Homo sapiens: one gene and its partners. The protein of the gene in region 2 purifies or fractionates together with the protein of the main gene of each other region. This does not show direct contact. Each region holds a gene or a part of one and is shown on either strand. Other genes may lie near its edges.

What was found. The genes of interacting proteins can lie anywhere in the genome.
Region 1: the proteins of IZUMO1 (region 2) and LPGAT1 purify together in Homo sapiens (affinity purification with mass spectrometry; 2 studies listed by BioGRID and IntAct, with this or other methods). This does not show direct contact.
Region 3: the proteins of IZUMO1 (region 2) and ASPHD2 purify together in Homo sapiens (affinity purification with mass spectrometry; one large-scale study listed by BioGRID and IntAct). This does not show direct contact.
Region 4: the proteins of IZUMO1 (region 2) and ADCY3 purify together in Homo sapiens (affinity purification with mass spectrometry; 2 studies listed by BioGRID and IntAct, with this or other methods). This does not show direct contact.

What each region holds. Positions count from the first base shown.
Region 1 is NC_000001.11:211,827,448-211,833,001, reverse strand, and holds the start of LPGAT1 (acyl-CoA:lysophosphatidylglycerol acyltransferase 1), read left to right. Parts: upstream 1-2,238; 5' UTR 2,239-2,429; intron 2,430-2,663; exon of another isoform or gene 2,664-2,747; coding exon of another isoform or gene 2,748-2,957; exon of another isoform or gene 2,958-3,209; coding exon of another isoform or gene 3,210-3,236; exon of another isoform or gene 3,237-3,552; intron 3,553-3,678; coding exon of another isoform or gene 3,679-3,705; coding exon 3,706-3,943; intron 3,944-5,554. UniProt on the Homo sapiens protein: Lysophospholipid acyltransferase involved in fatty acyl chain remodeling of glycerophospholipids in the endoplasmic reticulum membrane.
Region 2 is NC_000019.10:48,743,661-48,749,222, forward strand, and holds the start of IZUMO1 (izumo sperm-egg fusion protein 1 isoform 1 precursor), read right to left. Parts: upstream 3,250-5,562; 5' UTR 2,775-3,249; intron 2,273-2,774; 5' UTR 2,200-2,272; coding exon 1,965-2,199; intron 1,629-1,964; coding exon 1,554-1,628; intron 880-1,553; coding exon 793-879; intron 536-792; coding exon 515-535; intron 1-514. UniProt on the Homo sapiens protein: Essential sperm cell-surface protein required for fertilization by acting as a ligand for IZUMO1R/JUNO receptor on egg.
Region 3 is NC_000022.11:26,438,220-26,442,903, reverse strand, and holds part of ASPHD2 (aspartate beta-hydroxylase domain-containing protein 2), read right to left. Parts: intron 446-4,684; coding exon 332-445; intron 1-331. UniProt on the Homo sapiens protein: May function as 2-oxoglutarate-dependent dioxygenase.
Region 4 is NC_000002.12:24,909,722-24,914,777, reverse strand, and holds part of ADCY3 (adenylate cyclase type 3), read left to right. Parts: intron 1-5,056.

The DNA.
Region 1 (5,554 bases), on a different chromosome or scaffold from region 2:
AACTTCGAAATGCAAGAAATAAACACAAGCATCATCTGAAATTGTTCCCTTAAGAAGTCAGCCCTAACAGTTTCTTATCTATTATAGCAGCTGAATTATCTTGAAACTGATATTGTGGTCAGAAAGTTAAGAAGATAACCCCTCTCCTACACTCTTGGCACAAAACCAGGGCATATCTATACCTGGAACATAATGTGTTGTACTGTTGGTTGAGTTTCAAGAAAAGTCCAATGAGGTTGGAAGCAGTTAATATGAGGATATCTGAAAAGATCAAGGAGATTAGGTATTCCCTACTCCTTCCATAAGGAGGTACTGAAATGGCAGAATTCTGCAATGAGAGATGGTGATCAGCAAGCCGAGGGGACAGGCCTCAGAAGAAACCAGACCTCCCCACACTTTGATCTCTGATCTTGGCCTTCAGAACTTCGAGAAAATAAGTTTCTGTTGTTTAAGCCACCCAGTTTGCAGTATTTTGTTATGGCAGCTCTAGCTGACTAACACACATGAGAACACATATGATCAAATGATTTAAAATTATGAAGGGTCTAGAAGAGAATGTGATCATCTCAGAATACCTCTAAGTCAGGGTTTCTTAAAGCAAGGTCTGCATACTACTTGCATCAGAATCACCTATGACGCTTTTTAAAAAGCAGGTTCTCAGGTCCACTGGACCTAGATTATTAAAATGTTCTGGTATGATGCTGAAGAATCTGTCTCTTTGGTAGACACTTCAAGTGTTGTTTTTGTACACTAAAGAGCCAGAGGTCCTGCCCAACCTCTGGCTCTTTTCTGAGCCTGAAAATGAATTCTGGGCCTGGTACTAATTGCATTTCATCAAGTGCTGCTGTGTCTGGTCCTCTGGCAGATGGTCCCTGATCCAGGAATCACGTGTAAATCCCATTGTAGGTTATCTCTCTCCAGGTGTCAGCCAACGTTTACGCAGCATGTGGGAAAGCTGAATTGCATGGACCAGATGGAATCCTTAGAGTTTATTCTTGATTGTGGAAATAAATATGTACCTCACCTATCTTACTGAAGAATATAATGACATATTTTGAATAATAAAGTATATATATTATCTCTCTCATGAGATTTATTTAAAGATCTTACTACCTTGTCAATAAAGAGAGAATGCAAGGAATAGAATGGGGCATATCTTTCCTTCACCTGTGGACCTAAGAGGAACTGAAATTAGAGAAAGTTGAGAGTCCAGAGCAAACGCTGTGATGAACATTTTCAAAATAGGCAGAATAGGTGGCATTCTGATTCAAATATGGCAGTTCCCTAGGGAGTGTGAAATCTGCCCTGCCCCATCCCCTCCATTTACAAATGTGCTTAAGGGACATAAGGTTTTATAAACAGGATTTTTAAAAACTAAAATTTAGGCAGATCATTTAAGAATGCTCAAGGGGGTAGGTCAATGGACTATTTCTCTATTTTCCTTCAGGTGGTCCAGCCTTTGAACCAGAATGCAGCTATAGTATCCCAAGTGACGGGGTCTGTCTAGGAGTTCCCATGGCCACTGTTTTTTGTCTTTTCGGTTTTTCTTTTTATGGCGGGCGGGGGAGGGCGGGCGGGTGAGTACTTACTTAATGCCAGGCACTTGGTTGTTTTTTCCTTCTTGACTAACCAGATTTCAGTTTCTCTGTGTAGACCATTCATTCCCACTGAGTTTCTTGGTGGGGTGGTGGGGGCGGGGGCGATGAATGGGAAAGTGGAATTGCCATTAATGTTCCAGCTGCTTTCCTGAAACAAGACTTTTGACCGTAAAAAGAATGAATTTGAAACTCTAGACAATAATACACTGCAGAGGTTAAGAAGAAAAGCCATGAGTGCAACCGGGTTTCATTAAGAATGAAAAGTGGACATTTAGCCGTCAAGGAGACAGGTTCCTAGTTTGGGCAGAGAAGAGAGCCCTAACAATGAAAGGCGGCCGTGTTGGCTGAAAGGGGGCTCTCAACTGAAACCAAGGCACTCCTGGGGTGTGAGGATGGGTGTTCATTCCTAGATCTTTCCGAGCGGCCCTTTCCCTCAGTATGTTCTGGACTCACTGAGGTCCTGGCCGAGCGTCCAGGTAGCCCCGAGGGCCCCGACTCGCTGGCGCAGGGGTAGGGGGAGCGGGCCAGGCGGGGCAAGCGGGCCAGGCAGCGGCGGCGGCGCTTTCATTAGAGGGCGCTGTGGGAGCGGCTCCGCCGCAGTCCCGACTCCCGCCGCTTCCTCCCGCCGCCCCTCCCCGCCAGTCCGGGCGAACGCGGCCGGGCCCTTGGGGACCGAGTCTCGGCGCCGCCGGGGAACGGGCGCGGGCCGCGCCACAGCCGGAGCGGGGCAGGGCCCCGCCACCGCCTTCTTCCGCCGGCCCCGCCGCCGGCCATGCATTCTTCCGGCTCCTCTGACTCCCAAAGCCCCGGCTGGGGCCCGGCCAGCCCGAGGTAACCTCCGGCTCCGCGGTCGCAGGCCCCAGAGCGGCAGCGGAGCCGGGCCAGGGGAGGCGCTGGGGGCGGGGAAGGGGGTGTCGTCGTCGCGTGGCCCGGGGAGGCGGCAGCGGCCTGAGGGACGAGGGCGCGGTAGGCCCCGGGGAGGAGGCGGGGGCGCGGGGCATCCGCCCGCCTCCCCGGGACCCGCCCGGGTGACAGGTCCGGCCTCTGAGTCCCCGCCGTCCCTCTGTCCGCAGGCAGCCGCGAGGGGAGTAGGGCGCCAGCGCGCCCGCTCGCGCAGCGCCTCGGGCCGCTTGGGCCGCCACCGCGTCCATGACCGCGACCCCTCGGCGGGGGACACCCGCCCCCGCTCTCCGCAGCCGCCCGCCGTCCGCGCCCGCCGAGGTGAGCCCGGCGCGCGGGCCGCGCCCGCCGCCACGACCCTTCCACATCCGCGGAAACCGCTGCAGGCTCCACCGGCTCCCCGCGCTGCGGTCGCCTCTTCTCTGCCCCTTTCATCATCCCCTGCTTCCTTGCCCTCTGGTCGGAAATCTCATTCTCTTCATCCCCAGTTCCTTGGCTTTTACCTCTTTCTGGCTTTTGCTCCCTTCCCCCTACTCCTGTCCTTCCTCTTTTTCGCATTATAACCCCCTACTTTCTTCCTCTCACCTTGTAAGCTTTTTTTCTAGGCCCCCCATTTTTTTTCTTAAAAAAAAAAGGGAAACAAAAACCCTATTGCTACAAATGAGAATTTTGAGGGTAACTCTTCGCTAGAGCCAGAGACCTTTTAAAGGAATGCATCGGTGTGCAGGAATCGTGGTGGTGAGGAGACTGAGGTCCTCAGTATCTGGGAAATCTTATTGAGGGGACCCTGTTTCGGTCATGTCACTTGTGTCTTCAGTTTGGAGATCCTGAGGTTGTCTGAAGCGAGTGGATCTATTTTTCTAAGTCCAATAGACGACCGCAGTGAGACACGGTGCGGGGACGGCCACCGATTACTGAATGGGAATTGTGTTATCATTTGCTAAATATATTGTGACATACTTCGTGCCTCGGTGAACAGCTCCCTTGACCTTGTGCGGCTCCTCCTCCCTCGCTCTCTGTCCCCCTCTGGAATTTCCCCTGAGAGATCACCGAGGTACTACACCCGGAAAGCTTCGACCCTCGCTGTTTTATTTTGTGCTGGGGGCGATTTCTATGTTGGTGACTGTTTAGATGTATTTAATGAATTTTCCTTTTTAAGTGAATTTTTCTTTCACCCCAGAAAGACAGGACGGAGTCCAGTGTGAGAATGGCTATAACTTTGGAAGAAGCTCCGTGGCTGGGCTGGCTCTTGGTGAAAGCACTGATGAGGTTTGCCTTCATGGTCGTCAACAACCTGGTTGCTATTCCATCCTACATCTGCTATGTAATTATACTTCAGCCCCTTCGAGTGCTGGACAGTAAGCGGTTCTGGTATATCGAAGGAATCATGTATAAATGGCTTTTAGGAATGGTAGCTTCCTGGGGATGGTATGCTGGATATACAGGTAAGAGTGAGAACACTTTTCTTTAATGCATAAGAAAAAATTTGTCAGGAACCATGATTAAATGTATATTACACTTTGGGTTGAGGATGCTTTCATGTCTTCACTATTGAAAAAAATAAAAAGAAAACAGTTCTATTGGGTTTCTCTTCAGAATCTCAGGAAGACCAATGTTTTCAGAAGTATAATTTCATAATTATGTATTGGTAAATTTCTTAGTGTTTTTATTGTGATTGACATACATTTATTAAAACTGGTCTGCAAAAGCTCTGGTAGAGGAATAGGAGTGCGTTGTATAGGACTCGAGAGCTTATAAAGTGAAGATGTAAGATATTTCATCTATTTCATGGAAGATGCCCATAAACATTGGAAATTTAGAAAAAGAATGGGACCATATTTGTGCTAAGATAGTTTAATAAGTTTCTTCATCATTTAACGTGATATTGTACTGTTAGCCTTTTGAGCAAGCAAAAATGGCTTTCTTTTCTCTTACGTATGTTTCTTTTGTTTATTAGAATCTATATTTTATCTCATAAATCTGAGAGTATTAAATATAAAAAATTAAGTTAACTTTGTTAAGCTAATTTATCTTCTGAGTGTCTTTAAATAGATTGTGATTTCTGCCTTTAAATTGCATTTGGGGAAGCAAGAGTAACACTATTCAGAAGTGGACTTTTATAGAACTAAATGAGAAGTGTTTATTTTCTGAGATAAACCTTATATGCTTTGAGAACTTATGCCCTTGCTGTGAAAATTCTGTATCGTTTATTGTATTTATTTGATTTTTTTCCCTTAAGAATTAAGATAATGAAAAAATCATAGAGGTTTTTAGCACTTGTCAGATGTGGAGGCTTTTAGCACAGAAATTCCTACCTGATAGGCAGGCTCCTTGAAGATCATGCAGATGCTGTGGTCAGTAGAGGCTGTAGTTCATAGCTTGGCAGAGTGAGGAGGGGTACTCCCAGGGTCAAGCAGTATGGCAGTTCTCCATCTGAAATTCTGTCTCCCTCTTTCCTGCCTAGGCTGCACCTGCACATTTTATCCACACACGCAAGAGAAGGACTGATAGTATACAGCTTTTATGGAGTCTGACAGACCCTTGCTATGTCTGAGTATTCTCAGTTGCCCCAGATGAAGCCTTTTCTCCTTCAGGCAGTGGCATTTATTTATTTATTTCTCCTTCAGGCAGTGGCATAATAATGCAAGAGCTGAAGCCCCTGGGATAGTGTATGCGTTGCTTCCTTGTCATCTGTCTTGTTGAGATTCCAATGCTTTTTGGATATAGTAGGTGTGCTTCTAGCCCTTTTTTAGGACTTGGTGGTAGCAATAGCAGTGGTAGAGAAAAAACGAAGTTCTAATCTATGGTGCTGAATTCTTACCTGAATTGCACTGCTGTCTTAGAGTTGCTTGGCTTGGTATAGTTTGAGTGTTCCCAAATATATGTTATATGGTACTAGTGGCTTTATTCTTGTATAGTATACTTAAGTTTGCTTGTTTTAAATTAGCTTATAGTATTTTCAGAAACCCGTTCTAGAAGTTCATTCTGCTTAAAATGAAATTACTGAAATGTTTGTGCGTGTGTATAGTGTATTTAATTGTTAGCATGGTGGGAAG
Region 2 (5,562 bases):
GGTAAGTAGTAAGTGGGCTCCAACAAGGCTCAGTAAAGATTGTAAGTAGAGGCCGGATGCGGTGGCTTACTCCTGTAATCCCAGCACTTTGGGAGGCCGAGGCGGGCGGATCACAAGGTCAGGAGTTCAAGACTAGCCTGACCAACATGGTGAAACCCCGTCTCTGCTAAAAATACAAAAATTAGCTGGGTGTGATGGCGGGCACCTGTAATCCCAGCTACTCAGGGGGCTGAGGCAGGAGAATAGTTTGAACCTGGGAGGTGGAGGTTGCAGTGAGCCGTGATCGTGCCACTGCACTCCAGCCTGGGTGACAGGGTGAGACTGTCTCAAAAAAAAGAGTGTAAGTAGAATATGACCTGCTCCCCAAGAAATCCATGGTGCAGAAAGAATACTGGAGACCCAGGAACCTCTCCAAGGCAGAGAATGACAAAACCACCAGGATCCAAAAAGGCGAGTGGGGAGGTTGACTATTCAGAGGGCAGGATGAGGGTTAACTTCTGTAATCCAGACTCACCACATTTGTTGGGACAATAAGCTGTGTCAAAAGAGAAAAAAAGAGAGCAAGAAAGAGATGACAGAGTCAGATTTCTAAATGAAAGACGATGGAAGAGGGGGTTGGGGGAAGAGCTGGGCTTTGGGCTTTTGGGTTCGAGGGAGAAAAGACTTGGGTCTGAAGGAGGAGGCAGTTGGGGAAGCTGAGGAACTGGGCTTGGAGAAGTAAGGGGCTGGAGACAAGGACTCTTGGATAGTGGAAAGAGGAGCTGGGGGACACCGACTCCCATCTTCTCTCACCCTCTTTTTGGAATCGAGCAACATAGGTGGCAAAGGTTTCCTTTTGCAAGTGCAACATCCAAAATAGCTCCTTCACGAAGAGATCGCCTGGGAAGACACAGGAACCCCCAATCCCACGTGTGAGGTGTTGGAAGTTTACTTCTGCCTGCAGAGTCTGGCAGTCTACTTCCTGGCCTTCTCAGGAAAGGGCGCTACAACTGACCGTCTAACATAATGCCAGCTGCTGGGCTAGGCAATGCATATTTTGGGGGATGGGGGAGGGTCTTACCCTGCCACCCAGGCTGGAGTGTGTGGTGTAATCGTGGCTCACTGAAGCCTCAAACTCCTGGACTCAAGCAATCCCCCCGCCTCAACCCCCCAAGTAGCTAGGACTACAGGCACACACCACCATGCCCAGCTAATATGTATACATATGTCTATTTTTTGTAGAGACAAGGTTTCACCATGTTGGCCAGGCTGGTCTTGAACTACTGAGCTCAAGTAATCTGCCTGCCTCAGCCTTCCAAAGTGCCAGGATTACAGGCCTGAGCTACCGTGCCCGGCCAGCAATACACATTTAAACTGAACAACTGAGGAAGCATTTTAGAGCCAAGGGAGCTTCAAAGTCCTTTGCTCAAGGCCGTACAGCTAGGAAGTGGCAGAGCAGGCATTGGAATCTAGGCGGTCTGGGTCCACAGCCTAGTATCTGACCAAGAGACCAGGCATCACTAACGCTGGCTTCTCTGAGAGATTCGGGACTCCCACCCCCTTGATGCATTTACCTTTTACATCACTGTCTGTGATGCGTTTCAGATCCTTCAGCAAACTCCAGGACCCCTTTTGCAGTGTGGCCTCATCTGTCAGAGGAGATATAACCCCAGATTCCAGCCTTACTGTCTCATTGGCGCGCCTAATCTTAGAAACTACAATACCCATGAGGCCACTGGGCAAAGATAGGCCTGGTTAAGGACTCAGCCGCCCGTTGCCTTCTGGGAGTTGTAGTTTTATTACATAAAATTGCCAGCCGAGGATAGGGAAAACGGTATTTACTAGCCTCGGGGAACCTCGGAATCTGCATCTCAGCCTTCTCCATTCCCGAATCCCGGAGACCCTGCTGTCAGCCTCTTCCTTCCCCTGGTCTTATCTCCCTCCTTTCCCAGGACCCAGGGGTCCGTGGTCCCCCCTGCCCTCACCAACGACCCCCATATAGGCATCCTCATTAAGCGACAGTTCCTGGAAATCCTTCACGGCATTCTCTACCCTTTCCATCATGGCTTTGTGATGCTTCGCATCCAGGTGGCCAGGCAGGTAATCTTTCTCCAGGGACTTTAGCGCCAGCACGACAGACGGGTCACATATAACACACCCCTCGGCAGGAAGCAAGCAACCGGCCAGCGCCGCACACAGGAGGGTAAAATGCGGCCCCATTGCAGCCGGCGCGCACAGTTCCCGAAGACCGTTAGGAAGGGTGCTCTCACCCCAAACCGAGAGCAGGAGAACGCTAAACGGAGAAAAGCCAAAATCCATCTTAAGAAATCCCACTGGGCCGCCTATCCATGGGGTCCGCAAACCTCGAAAAGAGGATCTTCAGGAAATCTCCAAATAAAGAGGACCTATGTCCTTCATCAAATGCCTCCGAAGTGTGAAACTGAGCCCCAATCCAGGGGACCCAAAATTTAGGGTTCTCACTGAATCCCCCAACTGAGAGATCAGAAAAACTATTAAACAGGAATCACTCATAAGTCCCCAAACTCAGAACCTGGAATCTCCCAACCCCATGCGCCCCTTCCCAAAATCCCAAACTGTGGAATTTTCCAAGTCCCCAGATTGACGTGAGCCTGAACTCCAACCCTTAAGAGCAACACCGAGGCACTCCCCCGCCAGCCCCCCAAAACCTGTTGAACCTCAAGCTGAAGATTCAATGCCCAAACCAATAAACATCTAACACAGACCCAACCACGATATTATCAAACTCGGAACTCCTTCAAAACCAAAACACATACCAGATTCCTAGAACTGAGGACCCCACTAACACTTAAGCGAGACTCCATGCGGTCCTCTAGACCTAGGGGGCCCTTGTTCACCCTTCCCCAAAACTAACGGGCTCCCAATTTGCAGGGCGCACCCTTCCGCTTAGAAAAAGGAGCCCCGATGCATCCTGAACAGTGATGCACCCTAAACAGCCGCTCCCCGACCTTGGTTCCCGATTTGTGGCCTCTAACACTAGGGTTCATTGAGGAGCCCGGTCCAGGTTCTGAGGGCTTTTAAAGAGGAAGCCGGGGTCATGACCACCTACGCTAATTTTCCCAGGGGTAAAATCAAGGATTGTGTTGGGGACGAGGGTAAGGTTGGTTGCGTGAAATCGAGAGCTTTTCGACGGGGTCTGAGTCACGGACGATCCCCTCTCCACAAGGAACTCCTGAAACCACCCCCTCCGAGCTTCTCACGTAGGGGCCCGAATTCCTTTATAGATATTCCTTGGGGTTTTCCTCGGCCCCACCCAGAAACTCAACTCTGTCTGATTGGACTGCAACAAAGGGAGGTCCCGCCCATCGCTCCATGACGTCACAGAGGCTGCAGCCTTTTTGGACTAGAATTTTCCCAGCATCTAGGGAAGAGGAAGCCTCCTGACTACTCTGGCTTCCAGAGTCAAGGACCGGACTCAGGCCTTCAGTTTCCTCCCCTCCCCTTGCCCCAGGACCCAGGCTTTGGGCTAGATCCGGCCCCCCAGGCCGCTGCCGCCCCCACCGCGGTCCTTGGAAACGGCTGTCGAGCCACGAAGTGGACATTTTAGCCCTAAGACTACAACTCCCAAAATGCCCTGGGGCCTCTTTCTCTGTAGCTGACTGACGCTGCCAACCTCATAGCTTTCCGGGAAATGTAGTTCAGTGATAATCCGCTCCCTCCTCCGCCTCTTCTGCCCACGCGGAGGTCCCAGTGGGAGGAGAGGACTGGGGGCCAATACTGACAGTCCAGGAGTGAGCAACTGGGGGCTCAGACGTTAGGGTCCTGGAAGGTCTCTCTCTCCTGTGTGATAGAAACAGGGAACCAGAAAAACAGGGACCACAACTCACACAAGTCCAGCAACAAGGGGCTGTCAGATCTAAGTAGGGACAGTACTCCCAATCACGAGTAATAAAAATCCTCAGGGCCCGGCGCGGTGGCTCACGCTTGTAATTCCAGCGCTTTGGGAGGCCGAGGCGGGCAGATTGTCTGAGGTCAGGAGTTCGAGGCCAGCCTGGCTAACATGGTGAAACCCCGTCTCTACTAAAAATACAAAAATTAGCTGGGCATGGTGGCGAACGTCTGTAGTCCCAGCTACTTGGGAGGCTGAGGCACCAGAATCCGAGAGGTGGGAGTTTGCAGTGGGCCGAGATCACACTACTGCACTCCAGCCTGGGCCACAGAGCAAGACTCGATCTCTGAAAAAAAATAAATTAATTAAAAAAAAATAAAAGTCTTCAGAAGTACCCCACCTTTTCCTCCACTCTCTTACACACACACACACACACACACACACACAAACCCACACACACATACACAGTGGCTCTGGCTCCAAAAAAGCTACAGAGACACGGGTTAGTGCTGTAGACTTTTAATTCATACCTCCTGCTCTCTCACCCGTGGCAGCTGAGTTGGGAACAGTACTGTAACAATTGTAACTGTAACTCCCTGATAAGCCTACAGGCATGGGGTCTGGATGAGTAGACAGGGGATGTGATCAGAGCTGACTATGTTTAAGGTTTCTTCTTTCACCCTCCAAAAAACAGCAAGGGGCTCCTGAGATCTCGACAACCCCGTCCACCTTGGCCAGACCTCGTGCTCCTGCCTGGATCTGAGGCTGGGTCCAGGGTCTGCCTACCTTTAGATCGTTTTATCTCAGACCTGCCCAAAGCCAGATGTAGTGGTTCTGGGAGTTCAGGGACAGACAGTGGTTAGCAATGAGCACGGTACCTGCCAGTTTGTCACAAGCACAGAGGGTGTGTTTATACCTGCACACTTCCAGAAAACAGATCCCAGACCCTCAGCAGCCCACCTGCAGACAAAGACCAACTTCCTTCATTGTGAGAGGCAACCTGAACTCACACCCAATATATGGAGCTCTTGGCAGTTTATGAGCTTTAAAAAAAAGTGTCCCTGGATCCCTGGAAAGTTCTGCTCCAGAAGCTGTACCATTTTGGCAGTGATCCCTCACCCCACGTTCACATTTTAGCCTGTCTGCTCAAAACAAACAAAAAAAAGTCTTTGAGGGGCTGTGGGGCTTGTTGGACAGAGTCCCGCTCTGCTCACCAACTACCCCAGCTTTTCCAGAGACTGTGAACAGAGCAAGACGCTGGCCAACTAGAGATGGTTTGTTTTCCATCTCAATTTTTCCAGCAATGGTGGAACATTCATTAGATGCTACAATTAGGTTGCACATTCATTAGATTCTTCACTTGGCCCGGTGTGCTGGCTCACATCTATAAACCCAGCATTCTGGGAGGCCAAGGTGGGAGGACTGCTTGAGCCCAGGAGTTGAAGAACAGCCTGGGCAATATCACAAGACCTCGTCTCTACAAAAATTAAAAAAAATTATCCGGGCCAGGCATGGTGGCTCACGCCGGTAATCCCAGCACTGTGGGAGGCCGAGGTGGGCAGATCACGAGGTCAGGAGATCGAGACCATCCTGGTTAACACGATGAAACCCCGTCTCTACTAAAAATACAAAAAAAATTAGCCGGGCGTGGTGGCGGGCGCCTGTAGTCCCAGCTACTCAGGAGGCTGAGGCAGAATGGCATGAACCCGGGAGGC
Region 3 (4,684 bases), on a different chromosome or scaffold from region 2:
AAAAGGAAATGGGGAGATGGAGGGATCTTTAAGTGGGAATTTTTACGGCAGTGAAACTATTCTGTATGATACTGTCATGGTAGGTCCGTGTCATTATCCATTTGGCGAAACCCACAGAATGGATGGACAACACCAAGAGTGAACCTTAATGTCAACCATGAACTTTAGGTAATAATAACGCATCAATACTGTGTGTGTATATGTGTTATGGGGTGATATGAAGGGGCCTCCTTGGTACTTTCTGCCTGATTTTTCTGGAAACCTAAAACTTCTCTAAAAAAATAAAAGTCTATTCATTGAAAAAAAGGAAGTGGGAAAGGCAGCCACTCACCTTCATGGAACGCAGCATGCAGGAAAGAGTCATCAAAGAGAAGGCAGCGCCCTTCTGCCCAGCACTGGGGCTCTCCCCCCACCACCAGCTCACAGCCATTTGGAGTTTTCAGACCTTGTAGGAAAACCAGAGAAAGGAGAGTGAAGGCAGGCAAGATTCAGGGAAGGCCAGGAGATAGGGGGTGATTTGCCTTACTGAGAGTTTTTGACTTCTAAAGCACCTGACCTGCCTCACACCTCTGGAGCCCGTGCTATGGTCTGAAGGCTTGTGGGCTTGTGTCCCTGCAAATTCCCATGTTGAAACCTGACCCCAAGGTGATGGTGTTAGGAGGTGGGGCCTTTGGAAAGTGATCAGATCATGAAGGTGGGGTCCTAATGGGAGCAGCATCCTTATAAAACAGGCCCAAGGGAGCTTCTTTACCTCCTTTTGCATCTTTTTTTCTTTTCCCTTTTTTTTTTTTTTTTTTTGAAATGGAGTCTCTCTCTGTTGCCCAGGCTGGAATGCAGTGGTGTGATCTCGGCTCACCGCAACCTCCACCTCCCAGGTTCAAATGATACTCCTACCTCAGCCTCCGGAGTAGCTGGGAGGCACTGGAGTAGCTTACAGGCACCCACCACCTCACCCGGCTAATTTTTTTGTTTGTTTTGTTTGAGACAGAGTCTCACTCTGTCGCCCAGGCTGGAGTGCAGTGGCGCGATCCTGGCTCACTGGAACCTCTGCCACCTGGGTTCAAGCGATTCTCCTGCCTCAGCCTCCCGAGTAGCTGGGATTACAGGCACCTGCCACTGTGCCAGGCTAATTTTTGTATTTTTAGTAGAGATGGGGTTTCACCATCTTGGCCAGGCGGGTCTTGAACTCCTGACCTCGTGTCCACCCGCCTCAGCCTCCCAAAGTGCTGGGATTACAGGCGTGAGCCACTGCACCTGGCCGAATTTTTGTATTTTTAATAGAAATGGGGTTCCACCATGTTGGCCAAGCTGATCTCGAACTCCTGACCTCAAGAGATTTGCTTGCCTCAGCCTCCCAAAGTGCTGGGATTACAGGCATGAGCCACAGCACCTGGCCTGACATCTTTTTTTTTTTTTTTTTTTTTTAGATACAAGGTCTTGTTCTGTTGCCCAGGCTGAAATGCAGTGGCTCCACCATAGTTCACTGCAGCCTTCACCTCCTAGGCTCTAGAGATGCTCCAGCCTCACCCTCTTGAGTAGCTGAGACTATAGGTGTGCACCATCATGCCCAGCTAATTTAAACTTTTTTTTGTAAAGATGGGGTCTTGCTATGTTGACCGGGCTGGTCTCGAACTCCTGGCCTCAAGCTATCCTCCCACCTTGGCCTCCCAAAGTGTTGGGATTACAGGCAAGAGCCACTGCTCCTGGCCACCTCCTTTCACCATGTGAAGTCACAGTGAGAAGGTGTCATTTATGAACAAGAAGCAGGCCTTCACCAGACGCCAAATCTGCTGGCACCTTGATCTTGGGCTTCCAGCCTCAGAACTGTGAGTTCTACATTTTTGTTGTTTATAAGCCACCATCTAGATCTTCACTGCACTCTTGGCAAAAATTCATTCCTTCATTGGCTTCATCTATTCTGGGTCATGGATTCCTTTTATGAAAGTCACAGACTGACATTTGCACTACACTCTGAAGCCTAACCAGGGGACCCCCAGAAATCCAGGGAGGTTGGGTTTAGAACCTTGCCTTACCCAGTAACTGTGTTTACTGTAGTCTCCCCTCTAGGACTATCTCAGTTGCGATTAAAAAATCAAAGGCTCACACAGTGTTCTCCTCCTTGGGTTCTAGCCTTTTAATCCGTTTTGAGGCTGGAGAATGGCGTGCTCTTCGTCTGCCCTCATTCTGGGAAACTGGAGGACACTTCTAAGGTAATGGCTTAGGTTCAAGAGGAAATAGACTGGCAGCTTTGTAAGAAGCCGTATGCTTGGCTGGGCACAGTGGCTCACACCTGTAATCCCAGCACTTTGGGAGGCTGAGGGGTGGGCAGATCGCGTGAGGCCAAGAGTTCGAGACCAGCCTGGTCTCAAACATGGTGAAACCCTCTCTCTACTAATTATCCAAAATGAGCCAGGCATGGTGGCAGACGCCTGTAATCCCAGCTACTCGGGAGGCTGAGGCATGAGAATTGCTTGAACCCAGGAGGCGAAGGTTGCAGTGAGCCGAGATTGCATCACCGCACTCCAGCCTGGGCGAATCGCACCACTGCACTCCAGCCTGGGCAACAGAGTGAGACTCTGTCTCAAAAATAAAAATAAAAAATAAAAAATAAGCCGTATGCTTCAACCGGCCAGTGGGGTCCGGTTGGAACACTGCCATGTGTGACCCTCAGTCGCCCTTTCCAACACAAGGGTCTGCAGAAACACTTGGCCCCCATCACTACCTTGATGTCCAGAAAAGAAGGGGCCACCGTGGCCATCTAATGATTTCAGAAGGGGTTGGGTCAGCCCAACAGCTCTCAGGAAGGCCCACCCAGGGGGAAGCAGAGTCCTGGAAGAGGAGCTGGGATGGGTGGTGGTCTCATCTGTCTTCAGTGACTCACTGTGACCACAATGACCCTGGGCCAGTTGGCATTCCCCTCTGATTTAATGTCCTTTAGCATAAAAATGAAATAGCTTTCCTTCCAGCAGCCAGAGTATTTTAATGTATTCTTTGAACCAGAAATAATGGTTCCAGGAAGTACGTTCACAGTAATAATTCAAATAAAGAGGCCACATGGAGGAGACAGAAGGACGGAGGACTTGGGGACAGACGACTGGTTGTGACTCTTATGTGCTGTGTGACTTTGGGCAAGTCACTCAGCCTCTCTGAGCCATACCCTCACCTGTAAAGAGGGGACATTAGCATACTGAACCTTCCAGGGCTGCTATGGGACTTCTATCCTTGTTACCAATAACTGAAGACCTACTGTGTCTTCCTACTCAGCTTTGTGCTAAATACACACTTAACAGGTATCACTTCACCCACTTTCCAGATGGGGTAACTAAGAAGTTAAATGACCTGCTAAAAAGTTACCATTTAGTGTTGCTGAGTCAGCCTGACTCCAAAGAACAGGCTGTTATAAAACTGGACATGATGATATAAATGCTAGTTGTTATACTATTAACAGAGGAATTAAAGTGATTGTGGAGTTTTCGATTTTTCTTTATTTATTATTATTTTTTTTGAGACAGAATCGTGCTCTGTCGCCCAGGCTGGAGTGCAGTGCCATGATCTCAGCTCACTGCAGCCTCTGCCTCTTGGGTTCAAGCAATTCTCCTGCCTCAGCCTCCCGAGTAGCTGGGATTACAAGTGTGCACTACCGTGCCCAGCTAATTTTTGTATTTTTAGTAGAGATGGGGCTTCACCATGTTGGCCAGGCTGGTCTCGAACTTCTAGCCTCAAGAGATCCACCTGACTCGGCCTCCCAAAGTGCTGGGATTACAGGCTTGAGCCACTGTGCCTGGCCTGATTGCTGATTTTCTTGTAGTTAACATGTCTGATAGTTAATACTGAGTTTCAACTTGATTAGATTGAGGGATACAAAGTATTAATCCTGGGTGTGTCTATGTGGGTGTTGCCAAAAGAGATTAACATCTGAGTCAGTGGGCTGGGGAAGGCAGATCCACCCTTAATCTGGCAGGCACAATCTAATCAGCTTCCAGCAAATATAAAGCAGGCAGAAAAACATAAAAAAGTGAGACTGGCCTAGCCTCCCAGCCTGTATCTTTCTCCAGTGCTCGAAGCTTCCTGCCCTCAAACATCGGACTCCAGGTTCTTCAGCTTTGGAAACTGACTGGCTTTCCTTGCTCCTCAGTTTGCAGACAGCCTATTGTGGGACCTTGTGATCATGTGGGTTAATACTTAATAAACTCCCCTTTATATATATATGTGTGTGTGTGTGTGTATGTATGTATGTGTATATATATATATGTATGTGTATATATATATGTATATATATGTGTGTATATATATATGTATATATGTGTGTATATATATGTATGTATATATATGTATGTGTATATATGTATGTGTATATATGTATGTGTATATATGTATGTATATATATGTATGTATATATATGTATGTGTGTATCTATATATATGTATATATATGTGTGTGTGTATATATATGTATATATATGTATGTGTGTATATATCTGTGTGTATATATATATCCTATTAGTTCTGTCCCTCTAAGAGGACCCTAATATGTTTCAACTCTCAATAGTACATTTCATTAAATCAGCTGAGACTGCTCATCCTGACAGAAGCCATGATTTCCCACTATGGTTAACAGCAGCTGGGGGAGTCAGGGCTGTAAAGACGCCCAGATGGAGGGACTCAGAGGCTACGTTTTCCTTTGG
Region 4 (5,056 bases), on a different chromosome or scaffold from region 2:
TGTTCTGAGAGCCACCTTGGGTGGGCAGAGACCTAGCCAATGGTTCTCACGACCCATCCTCTAGCCCCTGCCTGTCCCCCATTCCTTTTTTTTTTTTTTTTTGAGACAGAGTTTCATTCTTATTTCTGAGGCTGGAGTGCAATGGCACAGTCTTGGCTCACTGCAACCTCCTCCTCCCGGGTTCAAGTGATTCTGCTGCCTCAGCCTCCCAAGTACCTGGGATTACAGGTGGCCGCCACCACGTCTGGCTAATTTTTTTGTATTTCTAGTAGAGACAGGATTTCACCATGTTGGCCAGGCTGGCCTCGAACTCCTGACCTCAGATAATCCGCCTGCCTTAGCCTCCCAAAGTGCTGGGATTACAGGTGTGAGCCGCTGTCCAGAGGAGGGAACAGAGGACGAAACAGAGATGGGTGATAACTGGTTCACTGTCACCCATCACTTTGGTGGCAGAAACAGGACGGGAGCCCAGGCGTTGACTCCCAGCCCAGGGCTCATTTGTCTGTGTTCCATGGAGCACTGATTGCTGCTCCATGGGTCCCCCATCCCAAGAGGCAACACAGGCCCAGAGCAGCCGGAAGGGAGGACAGATGGATCAGGAGGAGCCGAGGCTGGCAGTGTTTGCCCATTTCGCTCCCCTGGCCTGGGTCCTGCCCCAGGACCTGTTACGGAATTACTTGCCCTTTACTGCCCTAAACTGCCCCTGGGCTGGGTGAGGAGGAAGGAGGGGACTGGGCTCAGGACCAGGACCTGCAGGACCAGCGGCCAATGAGTGCGGACAATGGGGAAGGCAGCCAGGATGGTTGGGGGTGGTGGTGGGCGGGGCGTGCCTTTAGCATTTGGCAAAGTAGGGACTAGGAACTGCTGACAAATATTTTGTACCCTTACTTCAGAGCAGAAAGGCTATTTGGGAGCAAAATTCTCTCATGGAATGAAGAGCCTGTTAAGACCTTTTTTCACCAAGTAAAACATGAGGAAGCTGTGGATGTGCAGTTTCTTTCACACCTGCAAATTACACAGCAATCATTCACCCAGCAAAGGAACATTTGCTCCTAGGGGCTGGAGGGAGCTGCCGTAGGGAGGGTGAGAGGAAACTGAGGCTTCCAGAGACACCCTGTCTGCAGACGGCAGGTAGCTGTTGCATGCACCTCATCCCATTTAATCCTGGATGTTACTGGCTCCATTTCACAGATAAGGGGACTGAGGCTCAGTGAGGTTGAGAGGAGGTAGTGGGGCTGGATTACAGGGGAGGGGTCACTGATGAGTGAGAAAGGTGGGTTGGGGGACTTCCCTGAAAGCCTCTCTTTCTCTGGAACCCAGGCATCTGGGCCTCCTACTTTTCTGGCTGCCCCCAAATGTCTTTGCTAAGCAACGTAGCTGAACAGTGCCAAGAGATGGCAGTCCCTAAGGTATAACAGGAGGCACCCCCTTCTCCCCATGGGAATTGGATGCAAAGAAGGGAGAAGCCCATGACGATGTTCCCTGTGGGCACGTGGCCAGGAGTACTTGAGAAAGGCAGGGGGCTGAATCGGGACAGGAGCTGGTGTGAGGTGCGGTGGGCAGGAAGCAGCAGGCCTGGGGGCTTTCAGCCTTCAGGAAGCAGGCTGCAGGGAGAGGTGTGCAGGACACAGAGCAAGAGGAGGCAAACTCAAGCCAGTCCTGGCTCTTTGGCCCTGGGCTCCTCCACTGACCCGGGACGGGAAAGAAGCCGTCATCCCTCCGTGGAGAGTATGCAGATGGGCATCAGTGGAGGGTCCAGGGACCAGAACAATGATGACGTGCGTAGAAGGGGACTGCAGGGCCATCAGATTCAGCTGCATGTGAGGAGGAATAATCAGTCATTGAACATGTAAACAACTTTGCAGAAAATCAACCCCTCCATCCTTTCCCTGTCGCAGCTTTCTGTGGCCTTTTCTGACCCCGATCTGTGTATAAACAGAGCTTTCCCAGTTTGTCATCATCATGCATATGCAATTTAGGCCCCACCTTTCATCCACATTATTTCCCTGACATTTTGCTGTGAACACTGGACTCCTCGTGTTTATTATTTTAAATCAGCGCTTTATAGTCAGCGAGTTTTTCTAGAGAGGAAACGGAAGCCCAGGGCTGGGCCAGGGGTGGGTAACTGGGTAGTTTTATATGCACATGCAGGCACACACACACACACACACATGCACACACACACACACATGCACACACACACACACATGCACACACACACACACATGCGTGCTCACTCCTGGGCTTGGTCTGCCCAGCCTTCTGGGTAAACCCTCCGTCAGATGGAATGGCTGGGATGCCAGGGTTATTGGCATTCTGCAGTTTCTTCATAAACAAACAGCAAATCCCACGAGGGTGGTCTAATGCTGGGTAAATATTCCAACACCACCCTCTGCCCCTGGCTGCCCCCCCACCAAATTACACATTCTTTTTGTTTTTTCTTTTTTTCTTTTTCTTCTTCCTTTTTTTTTTTTTCAAATAGAGACAGAGTTTCACCATGTTGCCCAGGCTGGGCCTGAACTCCTGAGCTCAGGCGGTTCACCCACCTCGGCCTCCTAAAGTGCTGGATTACAGGTGTGAGCCACCATGCCCAGCCATCACCAAATTACACGTTCTTGATAATAGATTCCACGGGTATGTGCTATCACCAACACGGAGACTCAGAGACACATTGTGCGTAGGTCGAGGCCCATGAGCAGGGACAGTGAGGAGGTGGCTGTGTTTACTGAGCTCTTGCTCTGTTACAGTTTAGTGCCTTCTGGCAAGAGGCAAATATTATTTCCATTTTACAGATCAGGAAACTGAAATGGGTGACAACTGAAATGACTTGTCCAGGGCCACATGCCTAGTAAGAGGCAGAGCAGGATTGGAGCCCAGGTCAGTAGGATTTTGGAGTTCCTTCTCACTGGAGTCATAAAAGAACCCATTAGGCGGTGACCAGTAGCTCATGCCTGGAATCCCAGCACTTTGGGAGGCTGAGGCAGGAATATCACTTGAGGCCAGGAGTTCAAGACCAGCCTGGGCAACATAATGAGACCCCATCTTCATACACACACACACACACACGTACACAACCACCAAAAAAAATTCAGCTGGGCTTGGTGGTGTGTGTGTGTGTGTTTTTTTTTTTTTTTTTTTTTGAGTCTGTCTCCCAGGCTGGAGTGCAATGATGCTATCTTGGCTCACTGCAGCCTCCGCTTCCCAGGTTCAAGCAATTCTCCTGCCTCAGCCTCCCAAGTAGCTGGGATTTCAGGCACCCACCACCATGCCTGGCTAATTTTTTTTGTATTTTTAGTAGAGACAGGTTTTCACCACAGTAACCAGGCTGGTCTCGAACTCCTGACCTCAGGTGATCCACCTGCCTCGGCCTACCAAAGTGCTGGGATTACAGGCATGAACCACAGCGCCCAGGCTGATGGTGTGTGTCTTGTACAGGAGGCTGGGGAGGGGGATGGCTTGAGCCCAGGAGTTTGAAGTTACAGTGAGCTCTGATCATACCACCCCACTGCAGCCTGGGGAACAGTGAGACCCCATCTCAAAAAAAAAAAAAAAAAAAAAAAGAACCCTTATATCTTCCCTCGGAGCCTGTTGAGATAGTTCCAACGGGGTTAGGGTTTTGGTTTCTCAACCCACAAGCATTAGAAGGAGCAATTTGGGGGATGAGGAGGTGTTTTTGGGGGCATCTTCAAGGAACAGAGATGTCTGGGGTGTTGAGTGTTGCAACCAACAGCCCTCATATGCACCTTCTCTGGCTGTAGGAGGCGTTGTTACATTATAGGACAGCATAGTAACTGATGTGCATAATGGTGACCAACTCATCAAGAAAATATTAAGGCCAGGCGCGGTGGCTCACACCTGTAATCCCGGCACTTTGGAAGGCCGAGGTGGGTGGATCACGAGGTCAGGAGATCGAGACCATCCTGGCCAACATGGTGAAACCCTATCTCTATTAAAATACAAAAAATCAGCCGGGCGTGGTGATGCACGCCTGTAGTCCCAGCTACTGGGGAGGCTGAGGCAGGAGAATTGCTTGAACTTGGGAGGCAGAGAGTGCAGTGAGCTGAGATTGTGCCTGGTGACAGAGGGAGACTCTGTCTCACAAAAAAAAAAAAAAAAGAAAAGAAAAGAAAGGAAATATTAAATTGCATTTAGCATAAAGTGTAGTGTAGTATCTAAAAACATTTTCCTCGGGAATGGATAACACAAGTTTGAACAAATAAGGATTATATTTGGAAATTCAGTAATGTGGGATGGCTCATTACTCAGTGTTACTGAGTATATGTCCATTTATTCACCATGTGTTTTAGTTATCCACTGCTGTGTAACAAACAGCCCCAAAATTTGGAGGCTTAAAAGAGTAACAGTTTAAACCTGGGCAACATGGCAAAACTCTTGTCTCTACAAATGGTACAAAAATCAGCCAGGCATGGTAGCATGTGCCAGTAGTCCCAGCTACTCAGAAGGCTGAGGTGGGAGGATTATGAGCCCCGGATGCTGCAATGAGCCATGATCGTGACACTGCACTCCAGCCTGGGTGACAGAGCAAGACCGGTCTCAAAAAAGAATAAAAAAAGAATGACAGTTTATTGTTTCTCATGATCCTGTGGGTTGACTGTTCAGCTGGGTGGTTTTTGTGCTTCACGTGGCATGGGCTGGGGTCACTCATTTGTCCACCTGCGCTGTTTCATTCACCTGCAGCATTCAGTTGCCAGCTATGCTGGCAAGTTCTAAGAAGCCTTTACTCATGTCTGGAGCCTCAGAGCTCCTCCTCCTGACCTCTCCATGTGGCTAACTTGGGCTTCCTCACAGCATGGTGGTCTCAGAGAGAAGGTGGAAGCTATCACAGTTTTTAAAGGTTAGGCTCATCACTATCGGCTACAAGAAGTCCAGGCTAACTCAGATGCAAGAGGAAATTGATTCTATCTTTTGATGTTTGAGTAGCGTGTGTAAGGGAGGGAATGAATTGATAGCAGCTGTCTTCTGAGGCTGTCTGAGAAACCAGGAGGCACATGGGGGATGCTGGGGAGACGGAACTAATTAAAGCCATGAGATTGGG